7 linked regions of the Homo sapiens genome follow. The protein of the gene in region 5 purifies or fractionates together with the protein of the main gene of each other region. This does not show direct contact. Each region holds a gene or a part of one and is shown on either strand. Other genes may lie near its edges. The genes, in order: ILK, PRKCI, KCNJ12, NUMBL, RHOJ, SDCBP and RELL1.

The links.
Region 1: the proteins of RHOJ (region 5) and ILK purify together in Homo sapiens (affinity purification with mass spectrometry, with the first as the bait; one study listed by BioGRID). This does not show direct contact.
Region 2: the proteins of RHOJ (region 5) and PRKCI purify together in Homo sapiens (affinity purification with mass spectrometry; 4 studies listed by BioGRID and IntAct, with this or other methods). This does not show direct contact.
Region 3: the proteins of RHOJ (region 5) and KCNJ12 purify together in Homo sapiens (affinity purification with mass spectrometry, with the first as the bait; one study listed by BioGRID). This does not show direct contact.
Region 4: the proteins of RHOJ (region 5) and NUMBL purify together in Homo sapiens (affinity purification with mass spectrometry, with the first as the bait; one large-scale study listed by BioGRID). This does not show direct contact.
Region 6: the proteins of RHOJ (region 5) and SDCBP purify together in Homo sapiens (affinity purification with mass spectrometry, with the first as the bait; one study listed by BioGRID). This does not show direct contact.
Region 7: the proteins of RHOJ (region 5) and RELL1 purify together in Homo sapiens (affinity purification with mass spectrometry, with the first as the bait; one study listed by BioGRID). This does not show direct contact.

Annotation. Positions count from the first base shown.
Region 1 is NC_000011.10:6,606,774-6,609,071, forward strand, and holds part of ILK (scaffold protein ILK), read left to right. Parts: exon of another isoform or gene 1-1,272; coding exon 1,273-1,438; exon of another isoform or gene 1,439-1,620; coding exon 1,621-1,716; exon of another isoform or gene 1,717-1,920; coding exon 1,921-2,017; exon of another isoform or gene 2,018-2,110; coding exon 2,111-2,194; exon of another isoform or gene 2,195-2,297; coding exon 2,298-2,298. UniProt on the Homo sapiens protein: Scaffold protein which mediates protein-protein interactions during a range of cellular events including focal adhesion assembly, cell adhesion and cell migration.
Region 2 is NC_000003.12:170,277,924-170,281,423, forward strand, and holds part of PRKCI (protein kinase C iota type), read left to right. Parts: intron 1-2,303; coding exon 2,304-2,480; intron 2,481-3,242; coding exon 3,243-3,340; intron 3,341-3,500.
Region 3 is NC_000017.11:21,414,357-21,417,363, reverse strand, and holds part of KCNJ12 (ATP-sensitive inward rectifier potassium channel 12), read right to left. Parts: intron 2,078-3,007; 5' UTR 2,022-2,077; coding exon 720-2,021; 3' UTR 1-719. UniProt on the Homo sapiens protein: Inward rectifying potassium channel that probably participates in controlling the resting membrane potential in electrically excitable cells. Probably participates in establishing action potential waveform and excitability of neuronal and muscle tissues.
Region 4 is NC_000019.10:40,677,152-40,680,651, reverse strand, and holds part of NUMBL (numb-like protein), read left to right. Parts: intron 1-3,230; coding exon 3,231-3,420; intron 3,421-3,500. UniProt on the Homo sapiens protein: Plays a role in the process of neurogenesis. Required throughout embryonic neurogenesis to maintain neural progenitor cells, also called radial glial cells (RGCs), by allowing their daughter cells to choose progenitor over neuronal cell fate.
Region 5 is NC_000014.9:63,287,943-63,291,442, forward strand, and holds part of RHOJ (rho-related GTP-binding protein RhoJ), read left to right. Parts: intron 1-245; coding exon of another isoform or gene 246-308; exon of another isoform or gene 309-375; intron 376-2,935; coding exon 2,936-3,082; 3' UTR 3,083-3,500.
Region 6 is NC_000008.11:58,570,261-58,573,760, forward strand, and holds part of SDCBP (syntenin-1), read left to right. Parts: intron 1-626; coding exon 627-705; intron 706-1,944; coding exon 1,945-2,054; intron 2,055-3,500. UniProt on the Homo sapiens protein: Multifunctional adapter protein involved in diverse array of functions including trafficking of transmembrane proteins, neuro and immunomodulation, exosome biogenesis, and tumorigenesis.
Region 7 is NC_000004.12:37,648,377-37,651,876, reverse strand, and holds part of RELL1 (RELT-like protein 1 precursor), read left to right. Parts: intron 1-2,376; coding exon 2,377-2,601; intron 2,602-3,500. UniProt on the Homo sapiens protein: Induces activation of MAPK14/p38 cascade, when overexpressed. Induces apoptosis, when overexpressed.

The sequences.
Region 1 (2,298 bases), on a different chromosome or scaffold from region 5:
AACAGAACCCTTGTGCCCATACTTTTGCCCCCCGAGTTTGGCCTGCCCTGGCGCCACAGGCAGTACTGGAAGCTGATAAGTCAGGGCACAAATTAAAGGTCTAGGAGGCAAGACCAACTGATAAACAGGGGGCGTAATGCTTCCTGGGGATAATCCCATCTCAAGGAAAAGCTTTTGGCTATTTCTGTGTTAGCAGATGCGAGCAAGTTGTGGAGGAAAATGATTAACTTAAAGGCCACACCCCCCAACCCCTTCAGCTGTACGGGCATCTGGATGGCCAGACCCCTGATCAGCTCCAGGCCTTGCCTAGAGTCGCACACAGGAAGTGACCACAACACTAAGGCATCCGGAGGCTGCTGGCCCAGACCACGGACCGCCCCCTGCTCCGCCCCTTGAATCTGCAGCCCCGAACTGGAGGGAATTTCCTTTTATGGCCCCAGGCTGTCAGGCAGGCCCAGCTCCAAACCAATTGTTTTGTTTTGTTTGTATACTTTACTTTATAAAATACATATTTCTTGGAAAAGAAAAAAATCAGGTATAGTTTTAATCCCAAAACAGCCATTCTCATTTTCTTCTGTTTTCTATGCACAGGATTGCTAAGTAGGGGAATCCTGCTTTGCATGGTGGTTTGTTATCTACCTCATCAGTAGTCAAAAGCATTTCTCCTTTTCAACATAAACCCTTCCAAAACATCATTTAAATTCCATTCCATTTTTAGATGTTAGTTTCAGTACCAGAGCCAAATAGTAAGTTTGTTCCCTCTTCTATAAGTTGTGGCCTGCCTTCTCCAAGACACCCTTCTCCCCCACTAACATGCACTGAACAGCTGCTGTCAATCCATTCCCTCAAGAAACTTAAAGGTCTAACAGACAAGACAGTCCATTAACAGATTTTTACAATCCAGTGCAACAAGTGCTGAAGTAGGGGGACATATAAGATGTGGTGGAAAACAGAAAGGACCAATAGATGTTGCAGAAGGGGTGCAAGAGAAACCAGGGGAAGAGCACTACCACCTAAGGAAATGAGATGTGGGATATGGTGAAGATAACACATTTTTTTATAGAGGTTGTTGAGATATCTAGGTGGTTGGTTTGGTTTGAAGCTCAGGGGAAGGTCTGAAATGGACAGCTTTGGGAGTTGCTGGCATGAATGAGAATCAAAGTCCTAGAGAGGTAAGCCTTCCCAGAGAGTATGTAATTATCAGTTTTTCAGGAATCAAAACCTTTGCCCCATCCCACCTCCAGCTCAATGACCATTGCCCCTTCCTCAAAGGGACGATCATGGCTTCTCCCCCTTGCACTGGGCCTGCCGAGAGGGCCGCTCTGCTGTGGTTGAGATGTTGATCATGCGGGGGGCACGGATCAATGTAATGAACCGTGGGGATGACACCCCCCTGCATCTGGCAGCCAGTCATGGACACCGTGATATTGTACAGAAGGTACGTACAAACTCCTTCGTCATCCACATCACATACATGCCATGAGGGTCAGTCACAGGCACTGTAACATACAGTAGAAAGCATGTGTGCTCTTCCCCCTTTTCCCATGCCCTGACACCAGTATCTCATTTGGAACTGACTGTACTTTCTGCCTCTTCTTTTTGTCTGGCCATGGGGTCCAGCTATTGCAGTACAAGGCAGACATCAATGCAGTGAATGAACACGGGAATGTGCCCCTGCACTATGCCTGTTTTTGGGGCCAAGATCAAGTGGCAGAGGTGAGTACTCAGCCCTTAATTCCTGAGATGGGTAGGAAGTAAAGTCTGAGCCTTGGTGGGAGATTTTGGAACCCTCAACCCATTCTGTCAGTACTACTGTGTGACACTTACAGGATTAAGTTCTACATTTGTGCATTCATGGTTGGTTCAGTGACTGCCAGCGAGGTAGCAGTGGCTCTCATCATAATGGCCTTTTCATTCCAGGACCTGGTGGCAAATGGGGCCCTTGTCAGCATCTGTAACAAGTATGGAGAGATGCCTGTGGACAAAGCCAAGGCACCCCTGAGAGAGCTTCTCCGAGGTCCATCTCCCCATCCCCTAGCTTGTGTCCTCTCGTCCCTTCCCACCTGTCTTCTCCCTCTGTACCACAGCTTAGGTTGTTTTTCTTCCCTAGAGCGGGCAGAGAAGATGGGCCAGAATCTCAACCGTATTCCATACAAGGACACATTCTGGAAGGGGACCACCCGCACTCGGCCCCGTGAGTCACCACTGTGGGAAGAAGGGTTGTAAAAGGAAATAATCCTGGCCTCTTGGGGCTGGGTTAGGGTGAAGCTGGGTACCTGACCTGCCCACACTCTTAGG
Region 2 (3,500 bases), on a different chromosome or scaffold from region 5:
TTCCTCCATCTGAGATCATGCATTTTCTCCTTCAAGAACTCAATTTAGTTTTTCCTTTAGTGAGCACCTAGTAGTGATGGATCCACTCAGTTTTTCTTTGTCTGAAAATGTTTTTCTTTCACTTTCACTTTGTGAGCTACTTTTGCAGGATAGAGAATTCTAGGTCAGCTGTTTTCTTCTTTTTTAGGCCCTTTGAAGATGACATTTCACTGTTAAGTGGCGTCTATCATTTCATTCAGCCTTATTATTGTGTCGGTGAAGTTAACTCTATCTTTTTTGCTCCACTTGATTCTCTCTTATAGTTTCCAGTTAGCCATATTTCAAGTCTATGTGTTGACTTACTTTCTTACACTTCTCTTCTTTCTTAACCTTCTCAAACCTGGTTTCTTTTCACTCTGCTGTATTTACCCTTGTGTGTTAGTCTGTTTTGTGTTGTTACAAAGGAATACCTGAAGGTTGGGTGTGGCAGCTCACACCTATAATCCTAGGACTTTAGACCGGGAGGATCATTTGAGGCCAGTAGTTCAGGACCAGCCTTGGCAACATAGCAAGACCCTCCATGTCTACAAAAAATAAATAAAAATTAGCCGGGTTTGGAGGCACATGCCTGTAGCCCCAGCTACTTGGGAGACTGAGGCAGGAGGATCACTTGAGCCCAGGAGTTCATGGCTGCAGTGAGCTATGTTCGTGCCACTGCACTGCAGCCTGGGTGACAGAACAAGACCTTTTCTTAAATAAATAAATAAATGAAGGAAGGAATAAAGGAATACCTAAGGCTGGGTAATTTATACAAGATTTATTTGGTGCACGGTTCTGCAGGCTGATCAGTAAGTATTGCACTAGCATCTGCTTCTCAGGAAGCTTTCAGTCTTGGCAGAAGGCAAAGGGGAAGCAGGTGTGCCACATGGCAAGAGAGGGAGCAAGGGAGTCAGGGGAGGTGCCACACTCTGAACTCACTCATTACACAGGAACACACCAAGCCATTCATGAGGAATCTGTCCCTGTGACCCAAACACCTCCCACTAGGGATCACATTTCAGCATGAGATTTGAGATTTGGAGGGGTCAGATATACAAACTATCACCTTGTTACCAAATCAAATTATTATTATTATTACTATTATTGACAGGGTCTCACTTTGTGATGCAGGCTGGAGCGCACTGGCACAATCACAGCTCACTGCAACCTTGACCTGCCTGGCTCAGGTGATCCTCCCACCTCAGCCTCCCAGGTAGCTGGGACTACAGTGCACACCACCAACATCCGGCTAATTTTTGTATATTTTGGTAGAGATGAGGTTTCTTGGCACATTGCCCAGGCTGGTCTTGAACTCCTGGGCTCAATCAGTCCACCTGCTTCAGCCTCCCTAAGTGCTGAAAATACAGGCATGAGCCACTGTGCGCAGCCTAAATTATTATTTCTAAGTTTTTAAGTTGTCATTCTCACTCAGTTTTTCTAATACCCTTCTTTCAGTTTTGTGCTTGCGGGTTTCTTTATCTTTCTCAAAATTTACTATTTGCTTTTCTTGGTATTCTTCACTTCAGAGATTTCATACTTTATTCTCATGGGTCCATTGTGTGCTGATGATTTTGCAGGCATCTAATAAAAGACTGTCTTCAGGCTTCTCTGTAAATTGCTAGAAGCTTACATTTGTAGTTGTGAATGAATTTTAAGGCTTACTTTGTCGTCCCAAAGGGGTCTTGGTATTCTGTGGAAAAGAATGTCTTCCATTCGCTGAACTACTTCATGCTTGTTTTCTGTCTATAGCATCCAAAAACGCCTCTGAATGTGTGCTCTCACTAGCTTACATTCTATGTATCAAGCTTCCAGCAGACTCTTTCATCTTGATGTCTCATTATAACTTCTGAATTTATCATGAAAAACCCAATCGTTCTCTCCAGTAACTTTGTCAATCTTATCCTAGCCACACACTTGACGTTCCCTGTCAGTGGTACCCCCAATCTCTTGGTCACCAAGGTTAATGTGTTTTTTTAATTCCTGCATCTCTATTGCCTCTGTACCCAAAAGTTATCGTATCCTTTTTAAGACATCCTTCGATGTTTTTGTGATTTCAACTCCCTCCCCATTCTTATTACCATCCCTCTTATCTCAAAATTCATCCATATAATCTGGATAGTTAGATTATTTGGTTTGGAATGACATTTGAAAAATATTAAGAACTTAAAATATTTTTATGTTAGGAAAATATCTTTAAATCGTTATAGGTACAACTAGGTGTTAGAAATATAATGTACTACGCAAAGCATTTCCCATTATAACTCTGATACAAATGTTCTCAACAGGCAATGAACACCAGGGAAAGTGGCAAAGCTTCATCCAGTCTAGGTCTTCAGGATTTTGATTTGCTCCGGGTAATAGGAAGAGGAAGTTATGCCAAAGTACTGTTGGTTCGATTAAAAAAAACAGATCGTATTTATGCAATGAAAGTTGTGAAAAAAGAGCTTGTTAATGATGATGAGGTAAGCACTGCATATTTTATTGCTTCTAAACTGCTTGAGAATACTATTCTTTTTTTTTTTTGAAACGGAGTTTCGCTCTTGTCACCCAGCCTGGAGTGCTAGTGGTGCAATCTTGGCTCACTGCAACCTCTGCCTCCCAGGTTCAAGTGATTCTCCTGCCTCAGCCTCCCAAGTAGCTGGGATTACAGGCATGCACCACTATGCCCAGCTAATTTTTGTATTTTTAGTAGAGATGGGGTTTCACCATGTTGGCCAGGCTGCTCTTGAACTCCTGACCTCAAGTGATCCACCCGCCTCAGCCTCCCAAAGTTGCTAGGAATATAGGCGTGAGCCACCGCACCCAGCCAAGAGTACTATTTTAAAGAAAACCTCTATGTTTGTGCTTTATTATCTCATTCTGCTTTTCTAAATATGTGCTAAGTAAATGAAATATATTATTTCGGTTTACTTTTCTTATAGATGGTATAAGATATTTAAAGTAATTTGATTATTAGATTTTTTTAAAAAAACAAAAATCAAACCACATTATTATCAGGAGAAATACTTGAGCTTTGTAAAAGTTTTCTAGACAGTTTTATAATACTGAAAGATTGACTAGTGTTATTTTTCTCTTTGTATGTAAATTTTCGTTTCATGATTATCAATGGTTTTGATATTTAGCCTAGTTAACCATTGCATTTGTGACCATTGAATTGCTCAGAGCAAATTTATCATTAATTGTGATATCAGTTTGACATAGATTTCTTACATGTTTCAAAATAGGATATTGATTGGGTACAGACAGAGAAGCATGTGTTTGAGCAGGCATCCAATCATCCTTTCCTTGTTGGGCTGCATTCTTGCTTTCAGACAGAAAGCAGGTAAGATTGAAAGATAGTAGAATGATTACTGGGCTTCATATTTTTGGTCATATTACACAGTTAGAACCTTTCTGCCCTAATTCATGAAGTTGATATCATGGAGGATGCAACAGTGTTAGGCTTATAACTTCCTGCTAATAATACTGCCATCAGTGATATC
Region 3 (3,007 bases), on a different chromosome or scaffold from region 5:
TAGAAAGCTTTTATTACGATCATTAACATGGTCTTGATTTTTCTATCACAAACAGAGCCTAGCTGGCTCGTGAGCTCGATGAAGTGCGGTCCCAGAGCACCCTGCTTGCCCAGGGACTGTGGTGCCCACACACACGGGGAGAGGCCAGTCCCACCTCGGGGAACCCTCTGGAGCCTTCAGCCAGCTGCTGCATCCTGGCAGACCCATGGAATTCTAATTGTTCTTTTTGCCCCCTGTGAATTAAAAAAAAATTTTTTCAATTGCATGGTAATTTTTTTTTTTTGTAAACAGTCTCACCCAAGCTAAGGTCAAGAAAGCTGAAACCCGGTGTTTCTCCCCAAGTTAAAAACCAGCAAGGAGCACCGCAGCTAGCCAGCCTTGGACAGCAGAGGCTGGGCCCACCATCGAGCTGAGCTGCTTCCCCGCAGGCTGCAGCTCCATCTTCAGGCAGAAGCCCTGGCCCTCGTGGCCTGGCCCCCCAGGAGGCCACTTCTTTGCCCTGAGCCTGTGATAGCCTCTGAGGCCGGGGGCTGCCGCTCTGGCTGCCCCCTCTCCGGCCAAACTTCTGAGGCCGTTGCAAAGAAACATAAAACGACTAAAACGCTACTGAGTCTGCAACCCAGGGCACTGGGCCCGTTCTGCTCAAACCCGGGGCCCCTGAGCGACCGCGGGGCCTCTCCCCAGCCGGGGGTGGATGCTGCATGTCGGCCAAGGTTGGCTCAGATCTCTGACTCCCGTCTGTAGGGCCGCTGCTCCAGGACCCCGCCGCCAGCCTGGAGTCTGTCAAAGTCATGCCTGGCCTGGGGGCTGAGGCCGTCCCGGCTTCGGCCGTCCTGGTCTCCGTCCGCCTCATCCTCCTCGTCACGGCTCAGGAAGGCCAGCTCGTTCTCGTAGCAGAAGGAGTTGGCGCTGGGCAGCAGGAACTTGTTCTCTACCAGATCCTTCGCACTGCAGCGGGGCGTAGAGGGCACCTCATAGGTCTTGTGGAAGTGCGAGTAGTCAATCTTGTACTGGTTCTTCTCCTCGAAGAGCACGGGCTCAAAGCGGTGACCCCACAGGATCTCATTGGCCAGGTAGGAGCTGCGGGCCTGGGTGGTCATGGCTGTGGCCTCCACCATGCCTTCCAGGATGACCACGATCTCAAAGTCGTCCGTCTCCAGGTCCTGCCGGCTGATGCCGAAGAGCGGGCTGGCCTCGTCAATCTCATGCAAGATGGTGATGGGCGACACCAGAAAGATGCGGTCCAGGCCCTTGTCGAAGCCCACATCGATGTCGATCTGGTCCAGCGGGATGTACTCGCCCTCCTCGGTGACCCGCGGCTTGATGAGCTGCGCGCGCACATGGGCCTCCACAATGTGGCTCTTGCGCAGGTTACCCACACGCCACATGAGGCAGAGCTTGCCGTCACGCAGGGCCACCACGGCGTTGTGGCTGAACAGCAGCGTCTGTGCCCGCTTCTTGGGCCTTGCCATCTTGGCCATGATGGCACCAATCATGAAGGAGTCGATGATGCAGCCCACGATGGACTGGGCCACCACCATGAAGACGGCCACCGGGCACTCCTCCGTCACACAGCGCAGCCCGTAGCCGATGGTGGTCTGCGTCTCGATGGAGAAGAGGAAGGCCGCCATGAAGCCGTGCACCTGCATCACACAGGGTGTGCGGCCCCGGCCCTCAGCCGGCTCCAGGTCACCGTGTGCCACCGCGATGACCCAGAAGATGATGCCGAACAGCAGCCAGGAGGCAAGGAAGGCCAGCGAGAAGATGAGCAGCATGTACCGCCAGCGGATGTCCACACAGGTGGTGAACATGTCAGCCAGGTAGCGCTGTGACTTCTCGTCCATGTTGGCGAACTCAATGTTGCACTGGCCATTCTTCTTGACGAAGCGGTTGCGGCACCTGCGCCGCGTGTGCACCTTGCCGTTGCCGAAGCCGTTGGCGCCCGACATGGTGACCAGGTGCAGCCCGTCCTCCTCCGATGACACGATGCTGTAGGGGTTGGCCCGGCTGGCCGCGGTCATCCCGGGGGTTGGGGGACCCTGGCTCGCCCCCAGGCTAGCTCCAGGCAGGGCGGCTCCTGCAACAGAGACGACAGCATGTCTGGCTGGGCTGGTGGCTCCGGGCTCCTCTACCCCCATCCCAGGGCCCCCAGACGTGACTGGAGGACGCTTCCACCCTGATTGACCCACGATCGTGCTCTGGTCTTGCCCAAGCCAGCTCCCCACTCCGCCTTCCCAGTGCGAATGGCCACCCCCTTCGGGCCCCCAGCAGCTCCAGCCAAAAACCTCAGCTCCACACCTCACTCCCACACTGAGGGCTCTGAAGAGTCTATTTAGGATCCGACCCCTTCTCCCACCCTCAAGGCCTGAATCTAACAGTGCCTGCCCAGCCAGTTCGGGGCACAACTTGCCAGCCTCTCTGCCTCTGCCCATGGCCCCCCAGTCTCCATGGCAGCCACAGAGGGCCTGTGGAAGCTGAGTCGGTGCCTATCCCTCCCCTGCTCAATGCCAGAGGCCCCCCAGGACATGCAGGACCTGCACAGGGAAGCTCCTGACCCCTCGGACCTCACCTCCCAGCCTCCTCCAGCGGACTCCCCTTCCGGCCACAGCCCCTGGCCCCAGGCTGTCCCTCAAACCCACCCTGGACACCCTCCCGCAAGACATCCTGCCACTGCCTCGCCACCTTGGCACCAGAGGCCTCCTTGTGCCCCAGGAAGACCCATGTCCCATCCCTGCTATATCCACAGCACTGCCCCTTCTAAGGGCACAATGGCGGCAGCAATAACAATAACGTAGCCAGGGGCACTCAACCATCAACCCCACCCTGAGACCACCACTCCCTAAGGGTAGCACATTTTCTTTTTTTCTTTTCTTTCTTTTTTTCTTTTTTAGACAGAATCTTCCTCTCGTCACCTAGGCTGGAATGCAATGGTGCGATTTCAGCTCACTGCCATCTCCGCCTCCTGGGTTCAAGCGATTCTCCTGCCTCAGCTTCCTGAGCAGCTGGG
Region 4 (3,500 bases), on a different chromosome or scaffold from region 5:
CATGGTAAAACCCCATCTCTACTGAAATACAAAAAATTAGCTAGGTGTGGTGGTGCACACCTGTAGTCCCAGCTACTTGGGAGGCTGAGGCAGGAGAATCACTTGAGCCCGGGAGGTGGAGGTTGCAGTGAGCCAAAATTGCACCACTGCACTCCAGCCTGGGAGACAGAGTGAGACTCCATCTCAAAAAAAAAAGAGTATTGGCCAGGCGTGGTGGCTCACGCCTGTAATCCCAACACTTTGGGAGGCCAAGGCAGGCAGATCACCTGAGGTCAGGAATTTGAGACCAGCCTGGCCAACCTGGTAAAACCCCATCTCTACTAAAAATACAAAAAAAGTAGACAGGCATGGTGGCAGGCGCCTGTGATCCCAGCTACTCCAGAGGCTGAGGTAGGAGAATCACATGTGGGGAGAATCACATGAACCCTGGAGACGGAGGTTGCAGTGAGCCAAGACTGCACCACTGCACTCCAGCCTGGGTGACAGAGCGAGACTCTGTCTCAAGAAAACAAAAAAAAAAAACTATTTGGGGATGAGAATGAAAGCCAGAAAAGAGCAGGACCATCTCCTGTGGGTAAAGAATGTGATGTTGGATGAATTCCTTCCTACTTCTGAAGGAAGTTTTAACCATTAAGCAGTAGAATTCCCCAAGTTCAACTTTTTTTTTTTCTTGAGGTGAAATTCACATAAAATTAATCATTTAAAAGTGTACAATTCAATGGCATTTAATACATTTTCAGTGTTGTTTAACCATTGACTTTAGCAGTCCTGAAACATTTTCATCACCGCTAAAGGAGACCCCATCTCCATTCATCAATTCACCCCGTCTCCCCACTACCCCAGCCCCCTGGCAACCACTAATCTGCTTTGTCTCTCTGTGGATTTACCTATTCTGGATATTTCATTTAATGGAATCATATAATATGTGTCTGGCTTCTTTACTTAGTGTAATGTTGTGTTTTTGTTTGTTTTTGAAACAGAGTTTCGCTCTTGTTACCCAGGCTGGAGTGCAATGGAGCAATCTCAGCTCACTGCAACCTCTGCCTCCCGGGTTCAAGCAATTCTCCTGTCTCAGTCTCCCAAGTAGCTGGGATTACAGACATGCACCATCACAGCTGGCTAATTTTATATTTTTAGTAGAGATGGGGTTTCTCCATGCAGGTCAGGTTGGTCTTGAACTCCCGACCTCAGGTGATCCGCCTGCCTCTGCCTCCCAAAGTGCTGGGATTATAGGTGTGAGCCACCCTGCCCGGCAATGTTTTTAATTAATTTATTTAATGACACAGCGTCTCTCTCTGTCATCAAGGCTGGTGTGCAGTGGTGCAATCTCGCCTCACTGCAACCTGGGTTCAAGCGATTCTCCCACCTCAGCTTCCTGAGTAGCTAGGACTACAGGCACACGCCACCATGCCTGGCTAATTTTTTGTAGAGATGGGATTTCGCCATGTTGCCCAGGCTGGTCTCGAACTCCTGGACTCAAGCGATCCAGTCACCTTGGCCTCCCAAAGTGCTCGGATTACAGGCGTGAGCTGCTTGTATCAGTGGTTCATTCCTTTTTTTGAGACGGAGTCTCGCTCTGTTGCCCCAGGCTGGAGTACAGTGGCACGATCTTGGCTCACTGAAACCTCCGCCTCCAACCTTCAAGTGATTCTCCTGCCACAGCCTCCCTAGTAGCTGGGATTACAGGTGCACGCCACCACACCTGGCAGATTTTTGTATTTTTAGTAGAGATGGGGTTTCACCATGTTGGCCAGGCTGGTCTCGAACTCCTGGCCTCAAGTGATTTGCCTGCCTCGGCCTCCTGGGATTACAGGTGTGAGCGACTGCAGTCACACCGTCTGATTCTTTTTGTATGTCAAATTTGTAGGCATTGGACTACTTCAGCATGCACACCATTAAGTAGAATTCGTATTTGTTTCCAGATTTTTTTTTTCTTCAAAGCGAAAGATATGATTGTCTTAGTTCAGGCTGCTATAACCAGATAGTGTAGACTGTGTGGCTTAAATGACAAACATTTGTTTGCCGCAGTTCTAGAGGCTGGATACCTGAGGTCAGGGTGTCAAATGGCTCATTTCTTGGTGAGGGCTCTTTTCCTGGTTTGCAGATGGATGCCTGCTTTCTGTATCTTCACCTCTCAAGGTGGAGGGGAGATCTCTTGTCTCTTTTTCCTTTTTAAGGGCATTAATCCCGGCCGGGCATGGTGGCTCACGCCTGTAACCCCAACACTTTGGGAGGCCCAGGTGGGCAGATCACTCGAGGTCAGGAGTTCGAGTCCAGCCTCACCAACATCATGAAATCCCATCTCTACTAAAAATACACAAATTAACCAGGTGTGGTGGCGCATGCCTATAATCCCAGCTACTTGAGAGGCTGAGGCAGGAGAATCGCTTGAAGCCGGGAGGTGGAGGTTGCAGTGAGCTGAGGTCATGCCGCTGCACTCCAGCATAGCATCAGAGTAAGACCCTGTCCCAGAAAAAAAATAAATAAATAAGGGCATTAATTCCATCATGAGGACCCCACCTCATGATCTAACATAACTTTTATTGTCTCTCAAAGGCCCACCTCCAAATACCAGCACATTGTGGATGAGGGCTTCAGCGTTAGAACTGAGAGAGACACACACGTTTAGTCTATAGCAATGCACAAGCCTTTGGTGTACAGTCAACGAATTTCGACAACTGCATACACCCATGTAACGAAACCCCTATCAATATCTAGAACATTGCCACCACCCGGTCATCCCCTCATACACTTTCCAGTCATTCCCCACCCCATAGGAAACTACCACTATTCTGACTTTTTTTTAGACAGAATCTCACTCTGTCACCCAAGCTGGAGTGCAGTTGCCCCATCATAGCTGCTTGCAGCCTTGACCTCCTGGGCTCAAGGGAACCTCCCGCCTCAGCCTCCCAAAGTGCTAGGATTACAGGCGAGAGCCACCACTCCTGGCCTGTTCTGACTTTTTTTCACCATAGAACCATAGATTAGTTTTGCCTCTTCTGGAATTTCCAGTAAGTGGAGCCACACAACAGGCTCATTGGTTTCTGGCTTCTCTCACTTGGAGCTGTCATTTCCAGCCCTTCCTTGTGGTGCAGATGAGCACTGAGGCCCAGAGAAGTGCAGAGACTCATCCGGGGCAACCCAGTACCTAGCGGCTATAACCCAGTGCCCCTGGCCCCTGTCCGCACTGCCCAGCGCCTCTAACCCCCCCGCCCATCCTCTCCCCATAGGGCGAGAGGCTGAGCCACGCTGTGGGCTGTGCTTTTGCCGCCTGCCTGGAGCGAAAACAGCGACGGGAGAAGGAATGTGGGGTCACGGCCGCCTTCGATGCCAGCCGCACCAGCTTCGCCCGCGAGGGCTCCTTCCGCCTGTCTGGGGGTGGGCGGCCTGCTGAGCGAGAGGCCCCGGACAAGAAGAAAGGTGGGTGTTGCCCCAAGCGCCAGCAGAGCACAGAGTGGGCACAGGGTACCCAGTATCAGGGGGCAGGGAGCTGCAGAGGT
Region 5 (3,500 bases):
GGACACAGATCATTTTTTTTAGCAATCTGGCTGTGCTTTTTCCTTGAACCGGGATGAATTCTTCTCCGACCCTCATAGCACTTGACACATGGTAACAATACCTACCTCATAACTGGATTGTTTCTCACACGTGTTTCCCAAATGACACCAATAATCTGATGACTACTTTTTCTATCAGTACAACATAATGTCATATTAACTCAGTTACACAATAATGCCTTTATCTGCTATTTCATTATCTTCAGAAATGTCTGAATTGGAAGAGACAAGCTTGGGCTCCTCCCGCTCCATCGAAAGGCAAAGCCTGACATGCTGTCAGCTGCACACTGGGGGCAGGAGGATGGGGAGTGCCCTGCCCCTCCTGCAGGACTCCAGGTGTGAGTGAGCTCAGCCCAGCTGTCCTGGAATTCCAGGCAGAATCAATCCTAGGCTTGGGATCCTTAGTGGAGAGGTATTCCAGATAGAAAGGTGCTACAGCAGTTTCTAGGTATTTTCCAGACAAGTGCCACCACGTTACAGTCAAGTCATTCAGAATCATTCAGTTGGCAACGCTGTTGCCATTAGATTAATGTGCTTTTCACATGTGTTTGAATCAAGCATTGAACACAGTCCCAAAATGCAATAGAAGGCATTTCATTATGTTATTAGGAAAATTTTCTCTGCGCTTTATTCCTCTCTTGTATCTAACTGTTTTTAATTATTTAAAAAAGTTATTTTCTAATCTGAAAACCAAACCATGGTCAAAATGAAAGCCATAAAATAGATTTTCAACATCCAACATCGTTTTCTTTTGGTATTTTCCCTTGGCTCATTCAGTAACCATTCTTGTCAGGAAAAAAATGAAAAATGCATAATCTCTGTCGGAGAGTTTAGGAAATAGTGTCTGGGCCCAACCAAAACCACTTTATTTGATGGTTAGTTTTCATATTTGTGGCCTTTGAAATAAGTGGACAATCTCATTTCATTAACTGTCAACTTGACCAGCTTCTTGCAGAGCTGAGTGATAGGGGTCACAGTTACTGCCACAGAGCAAGGAAATGAACATGTATCAAGAGACCCAGATTCTGGGTCTATTTCTTTCACTTTCTAGGTGAGTGCCCATAAGCAATTCATTTTACCTCTCTGGGGTTATTCCCGCTCTGTTCTAAGCTAAACCACAAGTTCACTTAGTCCACACATTGCAAACTGGCTGGCTGCTGCCAAATATATCCCACATCAGTGTCTTGCTTGGCCCATGGTAAATAGTTCATAAACTGGTAAATATTAAATAAAAAATCCAAATGTCCAACTCCTCTTGAAAAATACAAAAATGGGCAATAGTAAACCAACATTACCACTTGGAAGCTGATAAGACTGCACACCCTAGAGGGGGCATGTGCTTTACAGCCCACCATAGTCCCCTCCTCTCCCTATTGTCTTGCGCCAGCCCCACTTTATCATTTACATAAGCTATTGGGCATAATAGGCCTATGATTTTGCTACCTTGTTTTAGCCATTTGTCTGCTGTAGTTTCCAGGAACTCGCCATTTAGCCAACCTCTTCTGAATCTGCTTTAATTTTTCAAAGTGATTCTTAAAATGCGAATCAAAAACTAAAGTCATTTCTCCAGATGTCCTTAATAGTAAAAGGCCAACATCACATCATTGACTCTTCCTGAGCTTATGAACAAATAAAACCGCAGGTCTCCTTCACAAGAAGCTGACTGCTAAATATGGTCTGCCCTGGTCTGTGATTTTTAAATGAGAATCTATAGTTCTGGCCTGAATTTCTATATTTCTCATGAGAGGTTTGTGATTATCAAACACACCATAGTATGAAATCATCAGAATATTTAAAATGAAGCCCTATGCAAGTATGAAATACCTTATCATTTAAATATATAGACTGTACACTGACAGGATGTCTCTGGCATTAAATGTCTTTTATGATTATCGTTACATGTTTTATTGTTATTGTTACATGTTTTAGTGGGTTTTTTTTTTAACTTTTTAAAAAATATGCCTTTTAAAGTGTGTTAAGGCTGGCTGCAGTGGCTCATGCCTGTAATCCCAGCATTTTTGGAGGCTGAGGCGGGCGCATCACATGAGGTCAGGAGTTCAAGACCAGACTGGCCAACATGGGAAAACCCCGTCTCTACTAAAAATACAAAAACTAACCCGGCTTGGTGGCACACGCCTGTAATCCCAGCTACTTGAGACGCTGAGGCAGGAGAATCACTTGAGCCCAGGAGGCAGAGGTTGCAGAGTTAAGATGGTGCCACTGCACTCCAGCCTGGGCAACAAGAGCGAAATCCATCTCAAAAATAAATAAATAAAGTATGTTAAAACTAAATAATAATGCCAATTGGATATTACCTTGTTGAGGGATACCTTAAAAGAGGTACATTTTAATCAAGAATGACCTATAAAACCATATCATTCACTCTCTTTCTATCTGCTTTATCAACCAAGCTGACACTTTGCCTTTTATCATACCAAAGAAGATACATTTCACTTGTACATGATTTACACATTCTGCCTACAAATGAGAGGATATGAAAAACAAGATCATGCACCCCTGTTCTTCACAAAACATATTTAAATTATATCATTGGTTTTGAATTGTCTCCTAATTTTTTAGATCTTTGCATTTTTTATGTTCTTAGGAATAAATGGCTATGGGTCAATTTTAGGATTTACTGCTTTCCAGAAGTAATCCACAACCATTTATTGCAAATAAAGGAAAGTAAAAAATACAAAAATACAAAAAAAAAAAAATAGGATAGCAGATACAAATTGAAATGGAAAAAAAAAAAAAAAGACAAACATAATCCAAACCACCCCACAGGCTGTTTGTAGGACAGGCAGAAGTAAGTGCTTGTCTGGGCAGTGAGTTGATACCACTGTGCTTTTCTCTCTTTTTTATCTCTCATGCCTTTCTCTCTTTTGTGTTTAAGATCGGAGCACAGTGCTACTTGGAATGTTCAGCTCTGACTCAGAAAGGTCTCAAAGCGGTTTTTGATGAAGCAATCCTCACCATTTTCCACCCCAAGAAAAAGAAGAAACGCTGTTCTGAGGGTCACAGCTGCTGTTCAATTATCTGAGGTTGTCTGGGACCTGCCTCCACCCCATCCAGGGATGAGAATGGCAGCCAATCTCTGTGGCCAAGCTCCAGCCAAAAAGGAGGGCACGACCAGAAAGGAACTCCCTTTGCACGGAGGCTTGCCCCATCACCCTCTGAGCCCTCCCAACACAGCACACTAGTCAGCCCACTGCCACGACCTCCCTGCCAGCCAGAAGCATCCGTACTGCACGCTGTCTGAGAATGCTGGGCCTGGATTGCAGACAGTGCCGCTGCTGATCGCATCAAAAACAAAGTCAAAGGCCATCTCACATTTTACAAATCCCCAGCTCATGAACGTGAAGCTGATAGGAAATCACCCCAGGGAACCCGAAAAAGAAACTTGATTCCTCTATTGCTGGCCTTACTTGATGTCTTTTATAAAACTTGGGACTACAATA
Region 6 (3,500 bases), on a different chromosome or scaffold from region 5:
TGTCAGAGTGATTTTGGCAAGTTTGTTTAACAGTTACAAATTACATTACCTTGTCATCATCGATTTATGTCAGTGATAAACTGTGCTATTTTCATAATTTCTGATATTTTAAAAGTATTTAGCATAAACCCCTTCCTATACTTGCTGCAATGAAGATAAAGATGATTTCAGTGGGACATGCTTAGTATTAATTTTTTAGGTGTTTTTCTGATATGTGACTTTTATATGAATATGGGTAAGGTTTTTTCTTATGCAAATAAAATATTTTTACTTGGACTAATTAGTAAAAGAATAATGAAAATGTAAAATTTATTCATTTTAGAATGCACTTTGAAAATATTAATTTATTGTGGCAGCACTATGAAGTGCTGGTTATAAGACATGTAGAATGGTACTTCTACAATTTTTTTGTGATAGCCTTAAAAGTATTTAGAATATCAAATATAGTTTTGATTTGCAGATTTCCTTTGGAAAATGTATTGCTGATGTGTTTGAAATTAAACTTTCTTACATAAATCTTCATTGTTTTAGTTTCTTTTTGGAAGTACTGGATTTAGCTTATAAATTATATAAGAATATAAAGTAAGTATAGCATATTGTTAGAATTTTCTTCTTTTCTTTTTCAGGCTCAAACTGCTTTTTCTGCAAACCCTGCCAATCCAGCAATTTTGTCAGAAGCTTCTGCTCCTATCCCTCACGATGGAAGTAGGTTTATACTTTGAGTTCATTCTCTGTGAACAGAAATATTGTTATCTTCTTTTGCTCATATAAGGAATCCAAGATTTTTTTTTGGACAGGCTGCATAAAATTGGTAGTTAAGCTCAAATAGTTATGAATAAGAAAAAAAAGTTTACTTCAAAAAATAACCCTTTTTCTAATTAAGATAGTGAACTGTGGATATGGGGATGTATTTCATGGCTTAATGAAAATTAATTTTAGACTGACTTGTAAATCCCTAACGTGGCTGATTCATTTATGAATGAATTATATATATGAATTCACATATGAGAACTATATGAATTCACATTTAAGAACTATCATGCTGCTGCTGTTGAACTTTCTGAATTGTCTTCTGTCTTTCCTATGGGAGCTTCTGAAATTTCCAACCACCTCCTCTTTGGGAAGCCTCCTAAATCTTAAGGCCTTTATTCATTCTCTGTATCCTGTCTTTGGTCCCTTTTTCTTCAAGGTTCAGAGGGATTCAGGACAGAGCTCCTAAATACTATGACTTAAGATACAAAATAAGTGTTAAATAAGTTTTTGTGGCCTGTCATTTTGTCTTACAACAGTTTATAACATTGTGCCTCATAGAAAATTCATTTTAAGTCACAGATAATTTAAGTCTCATGTAAAAAAGAGCTTTTGGAAATAGTATATAACTACTAATAAGTGAAATAATGTTAATATTTAAAAATACCATTTCCAGGATTTCATTGGAATGTGGTTAAAATTATTAAAATGATAAGACACTAAATAAATTTACAAGCTTCCAAAAAAAATTGTTCATAAGAATCATTCCATATCCCTGTTTACAGAATGAGTTATAAAGTAGCTGACTTGACAAATAGATATTTTGGTCAGTTGTTCTGAATTGGAGAATCAGTGGCATTCTTACTAAATTCCTAATCAAGTAAGTTTATTTTAAGAAACAGGAAAGGCAAGATAGTTTATTTGGAAAAGTTATTTCTACTTTTGAGTGTTTAGGAATCTCTGGTTGTTTCAGTTCAGATGTCTTCATATTTTACGAATTTTAAACATTTTCTGTATTTTCCATTTCTCATTATTACAGAGATGGGGAGATGCCTTTCCAAATTGCTACTTTAAATTCATTCTAGATTTTATAACTTAAGTGTAATTTTGTTAATACGCAGAAGCCCATAATGAGAGAAGTTTTCATTTTGTGTATTCTGTAAGTGCTTTTTAATTTATTCATTTACTTTTTAGATCTCTATCCCAGACTGTATCCAGAGCTCTCTCAATACATGGGGCTGAGTTTAAATGAAGAAGAAATACGTGCAAATGTGGCCGTGGTTTCTGGTGCACCACTTCAGGGGGTATGTATAGTGTAATTAATTTTGATTTATATAAAATCATACTTTACATGTTAGTATAAGCTTTCCTCTTTGTGGCTAACTCACAGATATACTACTAGCATTGAACCTCACTTCTCAGAAATTTTAGACTTCCTTTTGGATATCATTTCTTATATAGTCTACTTCATTTTGTGCTACACTGTTTTGAGTTTATTAGGACTTAGATTCAGATACCTTTTACTAGTTCGTTCTCCTTTGTCTTCTGCATTTAGTCAGTTACTAAGTCCTATTGATTCTGTTTCTGTTTCTTGTATTCATTTTATCTGTTTTTTATCCATTCTAGTCCTACTATAACCATATTCAGGGTTTCTATACTTCTAGCCTTCATTATTATAGTACTCTCTTAAATTTCCTCTAGTAACTTATTTCAGACAGTACTAAGCCGCTGCTAAGTTAATCATTCTGAAATACACATATAGGTCTATCATATCTTTGTTGCTCATAATCTTTTTTTTTTTTTTTTTTTTTTTTGAGGCATAGTCTCACTTTGTCACCCAGGCTGGAGTGCAATGGCGTGATCTCGGCCCACTGCAACCTCCGCCTCTTGGGTTCAAGCAATTCTCCTGCCTCAGCCTCCCAAGTAGCTGAGACTACAAGCGCGCGCCACCATGCCTGGCTAATTTTTTGTATTTTTAGTAGAGACCGGGTTTCACCATGTTGGCCACGCTGGTCTCGAACACCTGACCTCAGGTGATCCACCTGCCTCGACCTCCCAGAGTGCTGGGATTACAGGCATGAGCCACTGTGCCTGGCCTTTGCTCTTAATCTTTTAACATTCTTTTTGAAATTCAAAGCTCCATGTAATTAGACTCCAGAGTCTAGCTTAATTATAATGGGTCTGATAACCTTTTATTAAGGTTATTGCTATGACCATAGCACTTTGTACCACTTATTATAATTGTAGTTAAATCTGTGTCTGTCTTGTTGCCATATCCCAATGCATATACAGTACCTGGCATTTATGTATTTACCAAATATTTATTGAAAACTTGCTTGTGTTAGTGGTGATGCAGTTGGGAAAACAAATAATAGTAGGTATTTTAAGAGGTTGAAAAATTGAAAAAAACATAAATGGACATAGATGTAATTGCAGATAGCTAGCTGCTTCTCCTAGGACTGGGATAACACAGGAGAGAGATTGGAGTTAGCAGAACCTAGAAGCTTGAGGAAGAGCCCCACGGAGCTGGGACTCAGACCTTGGATGAGGGGACACTACTAGTGCCTCTGAGGGGTTGTAATGAGGCTGGTTCTGGGAGTGTCAGTAAAAGTTGCAGACTGGAACCAACTGCTGCTGCCAGTGTAAAGGGCCAGGCTTACACAGTACTGACAGGAGCAGGAGGCACACAGGAAGGAATGAGGTGCTTGTCATTCCAGTCACTGACAAACGAAATTATAATTTGCACAGTT
Region 7 (3,500 bases), on a different chromosome or scaffold from region 5:
TGAGGAGGGCGGAGAAGAATTTTATTGAGCTATGAAAATGGCTTTCAGCAGAGAGGCAATGTGGGGCTCGGGGGAATGGTTCTACTTGAAGTTCCTCCTGTGTGGCTGGGTCTGGGGCCTTTTATGGACTCAGAATGGGGAGTGAGTGCTGATTGGTTTGTGAGGAAAGCGCACCAAACAGGAAGACAAGTCCTCCATCTGGTCCGAGGATTTAACTTGTAGCTTGGCTTTCAAGCTTTAAAATTCTTCAGCATGGAGGTGGGGTTTCACCAGGGACCCAACCCTGTCTGCCTGGGCATTTGACTGCCTCCTGCCACTCTCAATTACAATACGGATTCTTTTCTCACCAAAATTCTCTTGAGAAAGCTTATATTTAAATGTCTCTAGCTTTCCAATTTCTGGGTTTCTTGAGCAGTGTGTGTGAACCTCCCTTGATGTAGAAAACCTCACTTTATCCTTTCAGAGTCAGGATATTCCAAATACTGAAGCTTTGTTTCAGTCAAACCCCACAGTTTTCTTTGGTCCTCATCTACCTGACTCCCCTCTTCATTTTGTATTTCTCTCCTCATTTTTCCATGGCATGGTGCTCTGCTGATTCTTTTGCTACACGGTATGTTCTTCCTGAACTCCTGGCCTCAAGTGATCCGCCTGCCTTGGCCTCCCAAAGTGTTGGGATTATAGGCATGTGCCACTGTGCCCAGCCTAAATATTAATAGTGGTAGCTAACACATTTATAGTGCTTACTGTGTGACAGGAACATATATAAGGCTAACTTTTTAATACTTTTTAATTTAATTTAATTTTTTTTTTTTTTTTTTTGAGACAGTCTTGCTCTGTCACCCAGGCTGAAGTGCAGTGGTGCACTTCTTGGCTCACTGCAACCTCTGCCTCGCAGGCTCAAGCAATCCTCTCACCTCTGCCTCTCCAGTAGCTGGCACCACAGTTGTGTACCACAATGCCCAGCTAATTTTTGTATTTTTAGTGGAGACGGGGTTTCACCATGTTGCCCAGGCTGGTCTTGAACTCCTGACCTCAAGTGATTCGCCCCCTCCCCCCACCCCCTTCAGCCTCCCAAAGTATGTTCTTCCTGCGATCTCAGTTGGCCACATTGTATAATTGTGTGCTCCAGGCTCACTGCTTTCTGGAGTCCCTGTGGCACCCCTGCAGGCTAAGATATCAAACTGTCTCTCATATATATATTCATGTGATACTTTGACATGTCTAAAGGCAAAAACTTCCCTTTTCTCCAAAAGATGCCCACTTCAAAGCTTCCCTATTCTTGAAGTCATAAAGTAGATCCCCACTGTTCTTTTCTCTTCTAGTGCCCCGTGTTTTCCTTCCACAGCATTTCTCACAATCTGTCACGATCTGCCCGTGTATACTTGTTTAATGGCTGTTTCTGATGCCATCATATACGAGCCTCAAGATGGCAGGGGCTACGTTACGTTGTTCATCACTCTATCCAGTTCCCACCCAGTGTGGTGCTTGTCACATAACTGGCATGCATTCAATGTTTATTGGGATTAGTGAACAAATAAACAAGTGCACTCACTTCCATTTTTATGTTTGCACCCCAGGCCAAGATCTTGATGCTATCCCTGACTTTTCCCTCTTCTTCATACTCTAGATCTGCTAGTTTACTAAATCCTCCTAGAATGTAAGCTGCATGAGGACAACAAATCTCCGCCTGTTTTGCTCAGTGTGATGAACCTGCATCACAAGTGCCTAGAATGGTGCCTGGCATGTGGGTGAATATTTGCTATGTTGCTTGCTAGTTTACACGTAATAATTTATTTCATCTTTATAACAATCCTAGAAGGGTGAGTAGGTAGTATTTGTATGCCCATTTCATAAGAAACCAAGGCATCAAGATGTTAAGTTCTTGTCCATTGTCACACAGCTGCTAAATGGTGGAGCTGGGAATTGAACTTGAGTGTTCTGAGGCCATGCTCTTAATCACTAAGAACTGTGCTATAATGTAATGTAGTGTTTATGTAATATTTGTAATGTTACATGTAGTGTTTATGTGTTCATTCTGTGTTTGTAATGTTACATGTAATGTTTATGTGTTTACTCTGTGCTGGACACTTCACGACAACCCTGTATACTCATTCCACAATGAAGAAGAAGCTGTCTTCAAAGGATGTTTTAAAAAATGACCCAGCATGGGACCTGGTTCATGAGTAGCAGAGTTAAACTCAGACTGTTTGAGCTCAAACCTGGGCTATCTTTTGCCTGTGCAGCTGGACCCACCAGTCTGCATGGCCTGTGGTTTCGGGAGCAGACCCTGACTTACTGTGAACATTACCTGAGAGTCATTAGGTTTTTCTTGCCCTGGACAGATATCTAATGCAGCATGCATGTTTCTTTCTGTAGACAATGGGAGCAGCCGCACATTGCACTCCAGAACAGAGACGACCCCGTCGCCCAGCAACGATACTGGGAATGGACACCCAGAATATATTGCATACGCGCTTGTCCCTGTGTTCTTTATCATGGGTCTCTTTGGCGTCCTCATTTGCCACCTGCTTAAGAAGAAAGGCTATCGTTGTACAACAGAAGCAGAGCAAGATATCGAAGAGGAAAAGGTTGAAAAGATAGGTAAATAACCAGGGCTCTTTTTATTGGGGGTGAGGAGACAGTTTTTAAATATGAAACCAGTGATATATGCTTTCCATCTCTCTGAGGCAGAATGATCCATTTTAGTGGCAGGTGGTGCAGTGTAGTGTAAGTGCAGATTGTGCAGTAATCACACCTAGTTTGAAAACTTGCTTTCATTACTGAATACCTGCCAGATAGGGCACCCTTTCTTGCCCTGTGGCCTTAGACAAGTTATTGTGTGCTCTGAATCTCTGCCATGTATAATTTCACTTAAATGTATTTTTAATTAATTTAATCTTATTCATTTGACATTTTAATTTAATTTCAATGAGGAAAATAATCCTTACCTTTTGGGGTTTCTGTGAAATTTAGAGGAAAGATGCATTTGGTATTTGGAATATATGACTACTCATTAAATATTAATCCTTACTATTATTATGGAATCAGATTCGAATAAGAGTGAAGGAAAAATTAAAATAGGTCTCCCCATGTTTGTGGTGTTACTTTTGCTGGGGGAGTTCTATCTTAAATATTTGTGATTGGAATTTATGTTTATTAAGTAAACGATCGTGTGCACAGTGCAGAAAAAAGTATGACAAGAGCTGGTGCCTTAGTACTAACTTCAGGCTGTCTCATCTGTTTCTCCTAATGTGGAGTCATAAGGTAGTGTTTAGAAAAACCGGGGAGACGAAATCCTGTTTTCGCCACTGATGTTTCTTTCCCATCATCTTTAGGGATGTTTCCTGACTTGGGCCTTGAGAGGTAGTAGGTGACTCCCCCTATTCCTTTCAGCCCTGCTAAGGGCAGTTTCTGCAGAAAGGTGACATTGGAGTAGGTCGCCCTTCAGGCAAAGCAGGGCTGGCTGAGGGGAGGTTCCTCGTTCCTTGCCAGCTTGCTGG